3 separate regions of the Homo sapiens genome follow, and all the other regions are reported to be linked to region 2. Evidence: microRNA targets listed by miRTarBase, many of them from high-throughput screens and not tested one by one. Region 2 holds a microRNA gene; each other region holds the end of a gene's coding sequence.

Region 1 (4,000 bases), not on the chromosome of region 2:
TCCACCCCAGCCTCACCCCCAAAGGCCTGAGCCCAGCCATGTCGCCAGCCCTACAGCGCCTTGTGAGCAGGACGGCCAGCAAGTACACAGACCGGGCCCTGCGGGCCAGCTACACACCATCCCCAGCACGCTCCACCCACCTCAAGACCCCGGCCAGTGGGCTGCAGACCCCCACAAGCACACCGGCGCCTGGCTCTGCCACACGCACCCCTCTCACACAGGACCCGGCCTCCATCACGGACAACCTGCTGCAGCTCCCTGCCCGGCGCAAAGCTTCGGACTTCTTTTAGAGCCAGGCCTGGGCTGGGCTCATAGACGCTTCACAGAGCCTGCAGGGCAGCTGTACACCCAGCAGAGGACTCCAGCCTTCTCGGGGCCCAGGCCTGGGCCAGAAGCTGTTGACCATACCAGGAGTCACTGGAGAAAGGGGCTGTGCTGGGGCCAGACTGGCACAAGGCACTCGTGCCCACACCACACCCCAGGGCCTTGCCAAGCTGTTTGCTGTTTAATTGGCCCCTTGAACTGTCATTAAAGAACACCTAGGTACAGTCTGGGGGGTTGCCTCTCCATCTTGCTCCCCACACGAGCCCTAGCCTTGCCCTGGGGCCTGCATCACGTCTCAGGACTGCGGGGCTTGAAGCGAGGGGCCCCCCAGGTGAGGAAGCTGCAGGTGGGGCGGCTGTGGGAGCACCGGGTGACTGGCGTTGCTTTCTGCGGCACTCGGAACCTGTGTTCTGAGTTGAGCTCACATCCTGCAGTGCTTTCTGCTTCTCTGGGGGGATATGAAGGAGAAACGGAGCCCTTGGAAGTTGTACCCTTAGGTTCCCCTGCGGTTCTGGGCCCAGGTCTGCAGCCTCCACTCTGGGCTTGCCGGCTGTGAGGTGCGCTGGTTATAGGACTGTGTGGGGGCTGCATATCAGGTGATCTCAGCTATCACCTTCTCCCAGCACCTGGCTTCCAGCTCATGGGGTGGGACTATCCCACTCACCCCTCTGCTATAGGCACTGCCCATCTTATGCTGCTGGCCCTGGCCTCACCTGGTCACTTCCACCAACAGGAGCTCCCAGATAACAGTGGGTTGCTGGACAGATCAGGCTGGGACTCTTAAGGGGTGGGGGACGTGGGGCCTTCAGTGCTTTATCCCCTAGGAAAGGGTGCACGTTATCCCAAGGGAGCCCCCAGGAAGTGGGGAGGGAGGGGGGAGGAGCATGTCTAGGTGCTGACCACCTGGAGCACTTGGCCAGCAAGTGGGCCGCATGCTTTGGGAGCAATGGGTGACCCAGCAGGAAGCACAAAAGACCGGCCAGTGTGCCATCATCAAGGGCTGCTGAGCAGCTTGAAGAGCCACTGGGTGGGGAGGGCACACGGGGAGGTCTCAGCTGGGGCTGCCCCTGGAGGACAGGGCAGGGAACTTGAGGGCTGAGGACAGAAATCTCACATGACTCCAGGAAATAGAGGAAGAGGAGGATGCTGAGCGAGGGATTGTGAGGGAGTGGGGGTAGGTCAGAGGGGGCTGAACTGCAGGAAGCCAGGGGGAGTCGTGGACCACTGGAGCTGGCCAGCCCCAGGGCATTGGGGACAAGGCCAGGTCAGAGGGAGACAGTGTGGGCCTGGTGGGTGGACCCTGGCAGAGGCCCTCTTGTCCCCCACAAGGCCAGGCCACACTGTGATTCTGCCTGTACCTGAGCATCTGTCCTGTGCTCCTAGGCCGGAGACCACTGTGTGTCAGGTGGGGCGGTTGGCTGAGTCCCAGAGAAAAACACTCCTCACTGGGCACTCTTGATGCTTGCACACACCCTGTGGTTTATTTGGTGGTCAGTAAGGAACGTCTTTGCTGCTAAGTGGAAGAAAGCTAATGGAACGTAATCAAAATAGTGGTTTAATTGACGAATTTTACTTGCACCTGTGCCTTCTTCAGATCCTACCTGCCTACTTAGTTTACGTGAAGGCCGACTGCACCATGCCCCCCAACCCCGACCCCCACCACACACAACGGGGCCATTGTCATGCTAGGTGCTTGCTTTCCCCACCTCAGCTCCGGAGATGTGATGGTCTTTGGCCCTGGAGGTCTCGGCCAGCCTGTCCTCCATCCTGTTCTCGTTCTCGGGCACCACCAGCAGCCGGTGCTGGGTTTTGGCTCCAAGCTTGTGGTCGGGCCGGTGGTCGGGCCTCAAGCCTGTCTTGGTGTCCAGTTTGCACTCAGCGCGGTACTTGCCCTCCCCCTCCCTCTTGAAGGAGGCAGAAGACGTGGCTTTGGGCTTGGGGGGCTGCAGCCACGAGTGGCTGAGGATCTCATCGATGTGGAGCCGCTGGCTGACGTCGGGCTGCAGCATGCGGTAGATGAGGTCCTTGCACTCGCAGGTCAGGTTCTTGGAGCGCGGGAAGTCCACACGGTGCTCCTTCTGGATACGCAGCATCTTCCTGATGTCGGAGTCGTCATAGGGCATGGAGCCGCAGACCATGATGTACAGGATCACGCCCAGGCTCCAGATGTCATACACCTTGGGCTGGTAGGGGATGCTCTGCAGCACCTCGGGGGCTGCATATGCTGCCGACCCGCAGAAGGTCTTGCTGAGGATGATGCGCCCATTGCTGTCCCGCAGGCAGCGCTTGGAGAAGCCAAAGTCAGACAGCTTGATGTTGAAGTCCTTGTCGAGGAGAAGGTTCTCGCACTTGAGGTCCCGGTGGACGATGTCCAGGTCGTGGCAGTACTTGACGGCGGAGGAGAGCTGTCGGAACATCTTGCGTGCCACGTCCTCATGCAGGGCTCCCTGGCACTTGATGAACTCGAGGAGGTCGCCCTGGACGCCAAGCTCCATGATGATGTAGATCCGTCCGTCAGAGGTCTCAAAGATCTCGTAAGTCTTGATGATGGAGCCGTGGTTGACAGTTGCCAGGATGTCCATCTCCCGAGGAAGGAATCTCTCCACAAAGTCAGTAGGTGTTTTCTTGCGGTCGATGATCTTGACAGCCACATTGAACTTGAGGCGCTCAGAGTAGGCAGATTTGACTTTTGCGTAGGAACCCTTGCCAAGATTGATGCCTACGATGTAACCCTTCTTCCTTAGGACTGTGGCATCGTCCATGGTGCCAGGAGCGACTGGCGCCGCTGCCGTCTACATCCCCCCGTCATGTGGGCCAGCAGGCATTGTCCTCATTTACACTACCGGAGGCGTCTGGCTGGGCTGCCCTGGGCTGGGCTTCGACTCAGGGGTGGAACACTCAGCATTGTCTCCGGGTGACTTCAGCCAATGAACTCATAAAGCCAAGGAGTGGGGGCGGGGACTGGGCTGAGGGAGAACAGGGTCTCTGGAACCGTGGAAGCCAGGCTGGTCTGGCAGGAGCACCCACTCCCCGCCCGCTGGAAGGAAGCCTGTCCCCAGGACAGGACTCTGGTGGCCCTGCTGCTGCTGCATTGGTTTCCCTGTCACAAGTCAAGCTGGAGGGGAGGCGGCCCACGTCCAGCCTGTTTGCATCACCTGGCTGTGGGGACTGACCCTGCATTGGTCTTTGTCCCACTAGGGTGGGTTTCCTGCAGCTTCTTTGGCTATGAAGAAAAGCACCCCCAGGGCTGTGTCCTTGGTGTGGTAGGACAGTTGTCCCTGACAGTCACCCAGACAGGCCTGCATAGCACCCCAGTTACACAGACAGATTTCCACAGCACTGCCTTACCATTGAGCACATAGTTAAATCTAGGGAAATCAGTGCCCAGACATCAAAGCTAGAAATGAAACATGGTCAGCAGGAGCCTTGCATGGGCTTCTCTTTTGCTGGAGCAAGCCAAAATAATAGGAACGGTTTTACATTCCTAGTGCCAGGACCCATCTCGGGTCGACAAAATCTGAAGACAAGTTAAGGGAACAGGCAGCTGTTTGAATAGATCAATTGGATAGTCTAAGGCAGCTCTCTGGACCAAGCTGTAAAGGAGATACAATCGAAATAATCACTCCGGTACCACAGTAGACAGGCCTTGAAGGCACTGGGCCCCTTTTAATCGGAC
Region 2 (4,146 bases):
TCTAAGGCTTGTTTAGCACAAGACAAGGGATAGCACGAGTTACACGCCCGGCTGCCTGGCACCTGCCCAGCACCCACCCGCCACCAGTGGGGACTGACCGCGGGCTGGGCGGGGCTGAAGTGGGCGCAAGCGCCGGTCGAGGGTCAGTAGACACCCAGCGTGGCTTCTCTGCGGTCCCACACCCTCTGGCCGCCTCTCCTCTCTCGCCCTCCTTCCTGGGCCCTCCACGAAGCCACCTGCACCCCTCCCTGGCCTGCAGACGCCCCTGCTGGCCTCACCAACCCCACCCACTGGGGCCTCTGCTCCACCAGGCAACACCTCAGGAACACTCTGGATCCCCGGCCCCTAAACACACCCCAGCCAGGGGCACAAGGCTAGGATGCACGGCACCATCCACGTCAGGCTCCCTACCCGGGCTGCAGCTGCCACCCTCCTGTGTCCTGGGGCCTAGAAAGTGACCCTGTCAGACTCCTTGGCCACCCCTGCCCTGTCCTTGTCACATGGCCCATGGCCACATGGTCTCAGGGCCTCCTGCCTCTACCATAGGAGAACCACCAGCCGCCACCCCTACCAGGCACAGCCGCCCAGGCCGCCAGGCTCCTGGAGGCCCCTCATCCCAATCCCACCCAGATGAGGTGGGGTCCAGGCTGCCCCTGTGTGAGACGCTTCCCTGTCCTCCCCATTCACACTGGCTCCTGGATCCCCCTGGCACTTGCCTTTTCCAGAAGGAGCCCACCCAGGGCCCAAGTACACAGCAGGAGCATGGGATTGGGGTCAGCAGAGAAGCAGGGCGGAGCAGCAGCGGGGTGGGGTGGAGCTGGGGGTGGAGCAGCAGCGGGGTGGGGTGGAACTGGGGGCGGAGCAGCAGTGGAGTGGGGCGGAGCTGGGGGCGGAGCCGGGGAAGGGCAGGTAGGGGCGGCGTTCTCACCTTCACTCTGCTGACTCCCGGTGCTGCCGCTGCCATAGCTAAAGCCCGGGTCCTGGTAGGCAGGCGGGAAGCAGGGTGGGGGTCCCGGGTACTGGTAGGGGTAGCCCTGACCCAGAGGCCAGGGGGCAGCCGGGTGGGGCAGCGGGGCCAGCGTGTCCTGATCCGAAGTCCCACTGGAGCCACTGTTGAGGTTCAGGGTGGCGAGATCTGGCGGGGGAGGGTAGGTGAGGGCCGCGGAGGGGCCTCCGGCGTTCCCCTCCCCCCCGCCCTGAAGCCCGAAGCCCCCACTCACTGCTGCAGAGATCCCCGAAGACGTAGTAGCACTGCTCGGAGAAGGTGATCTTGTTGACCGTGTGCCGCAGGAAGCCGTGCTTCAGCAAGCTGCTGGCGTACTTCCGGGCCTCCCGCCGCTCCTTGAAGCCCTCCACGTGTGTGTACAGCCAGTCCACCACGTCCGCCCCTGGCCGGCACCAGCGGTCAGCCCGCAGCCTCGAGGCAAGCAGCCCTGCCCCTGGCACTATCCGCCCGCGGGGACGGCCACTCACCGATGACGGCATTGGCGATGGTGATCTTGAGCCACATGCGGTCGCGGATCTCCAGTCCCGAGTCTGGCAGCTGCATGACCCGGACGACGGCGCTCATGTCACTCTTCACCGTCAGCGGCGCCTCTTCCAGCTCTGCAAAGCACAGACAGCCCCGCTTCAGCCCCAGCATCTGAAGGCGGGGGACTCAGGGCCCTGCACCCCCAGGGGAGCCTCTGGGCAGAGCCTGCGCCAGGGCGCAAGCTGGACGGTGCGTGACAGCAGGGCCCCGGCCCACTGCAGGATGCACCCCCGTGAGGCTGGGGCGTGAGCAGGGGGGTTGGACATTTAGTCTCCCACTTCTACAGACACTTTTCATCAGGATCCTAGGCACAAACTGGGCTGACACCCCACCCTGCAGACCAGGAAGTAATGAGAACAGGGCAGGCCCCTTCCCCTCCCCGCATGCCCCACCCGAGAGCGCAGGCTGTTAGTCGTGTTAATGGCAGGAAGCAGAATGGAGACCTGGCCCCTGCCTCTGACGCCGTGGGTGCTCCCCGCATAGGGGCCCTACGTACATCCCCTGTTCCCAACACACAGACCATGAGCAGGATGGGCTGCACAAGGTGGGCACGGGTGCCTGTGCACACGTCTGTGCAGGGAGTTGGGGACAGGCAACACACACGTGTCACAGCCCCATGACGGCCACAGGCGGCCATGCTGGAGGCTGGCAGAGACGCCCCCTCCAAGCCTCGGTTTCTGCTGGGGCCCTCAGGAGCTGCCACTTACGTGGAGCACCAGGCACGGAGCTGGTTAGTGAGGAGGAGCTGGTGCGCGTGACGGCGCTGGAGCAGGGACTCGTACCGTAGCGGGGCAGGGCTCCTGTCAGTGCCGCCGTGTGGGACAGCCAGGCGGCGGGGTCGATGGGCCGCACCGGGTCAGCTGGGTGGCCGCCACGTGGCGATGACAGGCGGACAGATGGACAGGGTGGGAGGGCAGGGTGCAGGGCACAGAGGAGAGAGGCCTTCAGGCTAGGTAGGCGCCCCCTCCCCATCCCGCCCCGTGTGCCCCGAGGGCCACTCACCCCGTGGGACGGTGAAGTAGCTTCGGGGCGTTGGGTCCCAGCACTTGGCCACAGTGAGGCTGATGGGCCTGCAGGAACGGTGGTCACACAGCAAGGCCCCCATGGTCCCACCTCCCTGCCTGGCCCCTCCCGCTCCAGCGCCCCCAGCCCTCACCCCGTCTGGGAAACGATCTCCCGCAGCACCCGCACGGCATCGTCATTGCTCATGTTCTCAAAGTTCACGTCATTCACCTGCAGGGGTGGGGATTAGGGTGGTGCAGGCAGGATGTGCAGCTCAGTCCACCGCCCCCGCAGACCCACCCACAGCCGCATGTCCCCCAGCAGCCCCCGCAGACCCACCCGCAGCCGCATGTCCCCCAGCAGCCCCTACAGACCCACCCGCAGCCGCACGTCACCCCAAAGTCCCCACGGACCCACCCGCAGCTACATGTCACCCCGCAGCCCCCACAGACACACCTGCAGCAACATGTCGCCGGGCTCGATGCGGCCGTCAGCGGCCACAGCCCCGCCCTTCATGATGGAGCCAATGTAGATGCCGCCGTCTCCACGGTCGTTGCTCTGCCCCACGATGCTGATGCCCAGAAAGTGATGTCTTTCTGCAGGAAGAGCCATGAGCCGCGGCCAAGCCCCTGCCCCTGCCCCCAACCCTCGCCCCGAGGCCTCACCCATGTTGAGCGTGACAGTGACGATGTTGAGGGACATGGTGGAGTCGGTTATGCTGCTGAAGGAGGAGGCCTATGGAGGAGAGGGGGCGTGTGTAAAAGGCACGGGGCTGCCCGACACTGACTTCGCCTCCCCAGCCCCGCCCTGCTCCACCCGGCTGCCTACCCGGTCCGCCTGCCGAAGGCGCTGCTTCCTCCGCCGGCGTTTGTGCTTCCGGATGAGTCTGGATGAGGTGCTCTGCTCCGTGGAGCTGCTGAGCCTGGGAACAGACTGTCAGAGCTCAGAGGAGCTGGAGACATGGGTAGGGGGGTGGGAACCCGCTCCCCCAATACTGAGTGGGAATCGGGGGTCTAGGCCAGGCTTGTTCCAAAGCAGGCTCAGTGCCTGACGTCCACGCCCCAGGCCCTGCACACGTGATATGCATATGAGCACACACGAAAATCCCAGAGACAGGCAAACTGGGCACAGACACATGTAGCCAGATCCACTACTGACACACCTGCACACATGCACACCTGCACACACATGCACACCTGCACACACGCACCCCTGCACAAGGCACACATGCACACACCTGCACACACACCTGCACACACGCAACCCTGCACACATGCACCCCTGCGCACAGGCACACATGCACACCCCTGCACACGCACGCATGAACACACGCACACCTGCACACGCATGCACACCTGCACACACGCACCCCTGCACACTACACACCTGCACAGGCACACATGCACACCTGCATACTCACCTGCACACGCACCCCTGCACAATGCACCCCTGCACACACGCACCCCTGCACACACATGCACACCTGCACACACGCACCCCTGCACACAGGCACACCTGCACACACCTGCACACGCACGCCTGCACATGCACACCTGCACGCACACCTTCACATACACCTGTACAAGCACACCTGCACACACGCACATCTGCAC
Region 3 (4,000 bases), not on the chromosome of region 2:
TGACAGCGACCATTCAGAGAACAACTGTGCCGCCTTCTACCGCGGTGCCTGGTGGTACCGCAACTGCCACACGTCCAACCTCAATGGGCAGTACCTGCGCGGTGCGCACGCCTCCTATGCCGACGGCGTGGAGTGGTCCTCCTGGACCGGCTGGCAGTACTCACTCAAGTTCTCTGAGATGAAGATCCGGCCGGTCCGGGAGGACCGCTAGACTGGTGCACCTTGTCCTTGGCCCTGCTGGTCCCTGTCGCCCCATCCCCGACCCCACCTCACTCTTTCGTGAATGTTCTCCACCCACCTGTGCCTGGCGGACCCACTCTCCAGTAGGGAGGGGCCGGGCCATCCCTGACACGAAGCTCCCTGGGCCGGTGAAGTCACACATCGCCTTCTCGCCGTCCCCACCCCCTCCATTTGGCAGCTCACTGATCTCTTGCCTCTGCTGATGGGGGCTGGCAAACTTGACGACCCCAACTCCTGCCTGCCCCCACTGTGACTCCGGTGCTGTTTGCCGTCCCCTGGCCAGGATGGTGGAGTCTGCCCCAGGCACCCTCTGCCCTGCCCGGCCAAATACCCGGCATTATGGGGACAGAGAGCAGGGGGCAGACAGCACCCCTGGAGTCCTCCTAGCAGATCGTGGGGAACGTCAGGTCTCTCTGAGGTCAGGTCTGAGGCCAGTATCCTCCAGCCCTCCCAATGCCAACCCCCACCCCGTTTCCCTGGTGCCCAGAGAACCCACCTCTCCCCCAAGGGCCTCAGCCTGGCTGTGGGCTGGGTGGCCCCATCCTACCAGGCCCTGAGGTCAGGATGGGGAGCTGCTGCCTTTGGGGACCCACGCTCCAAGGCTGAGACCAGTTCCCTGGAGGCCACCCACCCTGTGCCCCGGCAGGCCTGGGGTCTGCAGTCCTCTTACCTGCTGTGCCCACCTGCTCTCTGTCTCAAATGAGGCCCAACCCATCCCCCACCCAGCTCCCGGCCGTCCTCCTACCTGGGGCAGCTGGGGCTGCCATCCCATTTCTCCTGCCTCTGGAAGGTGGGTGGGGCCCTGCACCGTGGGGCTGGACTGCGCTAATGGGAAGCTCTTGGTTTTCTGGGCTGGGGCCTAGGCAGGGCTGGGATGAGGCTTGTACAACCCCCACCACCAATTTCCCAGGGACTCCAGGGTCCTGAGGCCTCCCAGGAGGGCCTTGGGGGTGATGACCCCTTCCCTGAGGTGGCTGTCTCCATGAGGAGGCCAACCCTTGCCATTGACCGTGGCCACCTGGACCCAGGCCAGGCCCGGCCCGGCGAGTGGTCAAGGGACAGGGACCACCTCACCGGGCAAATGGGGTCGGGGGGACTGGGGCACCAGACCAGGCACCACCTGGACACTTTCTTGTTGAATCCTCCCAACACCCAGCACGCTGTCATCCCCACTCCTTGTGTGCACACATGCAGAGGTGAGACCCGCAGGCTCCCAGGACCAGCAGCCACAAGGGCAGGGCTGGAGCCGGGTCCTCAGCTGTCTGCTCAGCAGCCCTGGACCCGCGTGCGTTACGTCAGGCCCAGATGCAGGGCGGCTTTTCCAAGGCCTCCTGATGGGGGGCCTCCGAAAGGGCTGGAGTCAGCCTTGGGGAGCTGCCTAGCAGCCTCTCCTCGGGCAGGAGGGGAGGTGGCTTCCTCCAAAGGACACCCGATGGCAGGTGCCTAGGGGGTGTGGGGTTCCGTTCTCCCTTCCCCTCCCACTGAAGTTTGTGCTTAAAAAACAATAAATTTGACTTGGCACCACTGGGGGTTGGTGGGAGAGGCCGTGTGACCTGGCTCTCTGTCCCAGTGCCACCAGGTCATCCACATGCGCAGATGTCTGCAGCGCTTCCTTCTGCCGTGGGCCCAGGCTGGACAGGACCTGGTCCCTGCCCTCTCGGTCCTCAGCTGGACGCAGATACAGCCAAGAATCAGGCAGTGGCAGCCTAGTGTGGCCGGGGTGGTGGCTGGAGCAGGCCAGGTGCGGGGCCACAAGGGGCAAGATGTGGGCAAAATGACCACATGAGATTCAACGGGAAATCCCTTCTTGGCTCCTCTTCCCACCATCTAGAAGCCAAGGGAGCCCACCCAGACCATCTGGGTTCCCAGAGCACCCTGTCATATTGCAGGGGCTGGGTGGGACCCGAGTTCTCATCCCAGGAGCCCCCCACCGACAGGCCCCAGGCAGGAGCTACCAGCCTCCCCATGCCAGTGACTGCGCCAGCGACTGCTTAGAAAGTGCCAGCACTTTCTGATGTGTCATCAAACAAACTCCTGGTGAGTGTGAAGTTAATGGACTCACAGATGTGTGGGTGCAGCAGGAGGCACCAGGGCCCTCGTGCCAGGGCTTGGCTGTGGAACAGATGCACCATGGCTGGGGCCTGGCGAGGGGCCGGGGGCAGGTGCAGGTGGCCTGTGAGCCTGTGGTCCAGGTCCAGGTCCCGGCAGCATCTGTCCTCAGTGGCTGGCTGCACTGGGGATGCCTGTCCCTTCTAGAGCCCTGTTACTGCCCTAGAGCACCGGCCCCTGTCCCAGACCAGGAGAGGGCACATGGCCCTACCAAGCACCGGCTGAATGGGCACGGAGCTTGACATGGTGGGGAGGGCCCAGGCCAGCGCACCGGCCCCACCCTCCCCAGGGGCACCTTCAAAGGCTGGCACTGGGGAAAAACGGTCCCTGCGCACCTGCTCCGGGCCACACCCTCTCACCCTAGCCCTGCAGAGCCTACGGTCTGATACCAGTGCAAATGGCTCTCATCTGAGACAGGAGGATGGGGATGCTGGGAGAGCCCTGGGCGAGGGACAGCTCGAGACCTGTGGGCTGAGTGACCAGGCCAAGGGCTAGCATGTGCACAGGGTCGCCTGGGACCCACGGGCCCCAAACCGTCCCCTGGGACCCAGTTTGAGGGTGGATGCCTGCAGCCCTCCATCCCACAATGCCACCTGACTGAGCCTCCTCCTGCTGCTTCACTTGAGGGGAGTAAGCTGAGTGGGAGGGGTCTCTGCATCGCCACACTGGGACCTGGAGGCAGCGCACCTGCGCCGTTGCTTCTCCACGTGCACAGGTAGGTTTTGTGGCTCAGCCAGTGGCCTTCCTCCTTTCCCCTAAACTTCACACATATCTCAGAGAGTTACACCAAAGGCCACGCAGCTGACTGCCTGAGCACCAAGGTCCAGAGGATGGAAGGAACCTTGGTTTCCATGCTGGTGGCCTCAGCACATTCAGCTGGAGAACAGCAAAGGAACAGAGCTGTGAGCCATTCTCAAACAGCTTTCCCCTGCAGCTGCGTGTAAATTGGTTTTATAATGTTTGTCTTTGGGACAAAAGCTGTATCGCCAGTGCCTACCTCCTTCTGGTGCCCCTAACCCTTCCTGCCACCTGTCCTCGTCCACACAGGCCTCTGGCTGGCTTGGCTGGGGCCAGAGCCCTGGAAGCTGGGAGCCAGGGTCTCTGGAGGCCCTGTCACCCAGGGGCGTGTCTGAGCAGGCAGAGATTTGGAGGATTGTTGAACCATCTCAAACCATGAGGACGCTGGCTCCAGGGAGGGGAAGGAAGAGGAGAGGTACCGTTTGTGTGAGATGGGGGGACGGGACATAAAGAACGCCTGTGGCCAGCGGCAGACCCGTCCTGTGACTTCAGGAGCAATGTACCGGCAGGAGGACCCAGCAGGGGACACACAGAACCCAGAACAAGGAGACAGGACACTAAGCTTTGGCCTCAGCGGACCGGGCTTCCCCAGGGCCTCCATTTCTTCATCTGCTTTCAGAGACAAGGATGTCCCCAAACTGTGTGGCCCAAGCAGCCGGCAGGACTTGGCAAACCCAGAGGGCTGAGGTCGGGCCTCGGTGGGATTTGTAGGGAGTGTTGGGAGCTCTGGCTCAAGGCTGGCCACGTTGGCCCCTCATGCGCTGACAGGTGTGTCTGACTCGGGCCACACAGCACTGGCCAGGGCTGCAGAGGGAGCTCAGAGGGCCAGCACAGCGACTGGTGGAGGAAGCCT

What was found. The annotated mature microRNA hsa-miR-6808-5p reads CAGGCAGGGAGGUGGGACCAUG and lies in region 2 at 2,634-2,655, opposite strand. An mRNA with a match to its seed (bases 2 to 7 or 8) in the 3' UTR can be bound and repressed. Matches are read on the target gene's strand: a 7mer-m8 pairs with bases 2 to 8, a 7mer-A1 pairs with bases 2 to 7 and ends in A, and an 8mer does both.
Region 1: miRTarBase lists ESS2 as a target of hsa-miR-6808-5p. Seed matches in the 3' UTR shown: 8mer at 1,925-1,932.
Region 3: miRTarBase lists FIBCD1 as a target of hsa-miR-6808-5p. Seed matches in the 3' UTR shown: 7mer-m8 at 474-480, 7mer-m8 at 1,017-1,023 and 7mer-A1 at 1,615-1,621.

What each region holds. Positions count from the first base shown.
Region 1 is chr22:19,130,486-19,134,485 of GRCh38, reverse strand. ESS2 (ess-2 spliceosome associated protein) reads left to right here. Exons shown (of 10, transcript NM_022719.3): 10 at 11-4,000. The coding sequence ends at 290. TSSK2 (testis specific serine kinase 2) reads right to left here and starts at 3,178. Exons shown (of 1, transcript NM_053006.5): 1 at 1,864-3,178. The coding sequence starts at 3,086. The coding sequence ends at 2,010.
Region 2 is chr1:1,337,049-1,341,194 of GRCh38, forward strand. MIR6808 (microRNA 6808) reads right to left here and starts at 2,660; the gene lies at 2,602-2,660. DVL1 (dishevelled segment polarity protein 1) reads right to left here. Exons shown (of 15, transcript NM_001330311.2): 6 at 3,362-3,455; 7 at 3,199-3,268; 8 at 2,990-3,129; 9 at 2,688-2,764; 10 at 2,534-2,601; 11 at 2,239-2,391; 12 at 1,474-1,605; 13 at 1,221-1,388; 14 at 929-1,135. RefSeq lists a silencer at 896-955.
Region 3 is chr9:130,900,275-130,904,274 of GRCh38, reverse strand. It overlaps FIBCD1 (fibrinogen C domain containing 1), which reads left to right. Exons shown (of 7, transcript NM_032843.5): 7 at 1-1,835. The coding sequence ends at 211. Among named protein-coding and RNA genes, the nearest start is that of QRFP, 5.5 kb to the right of the region's middle.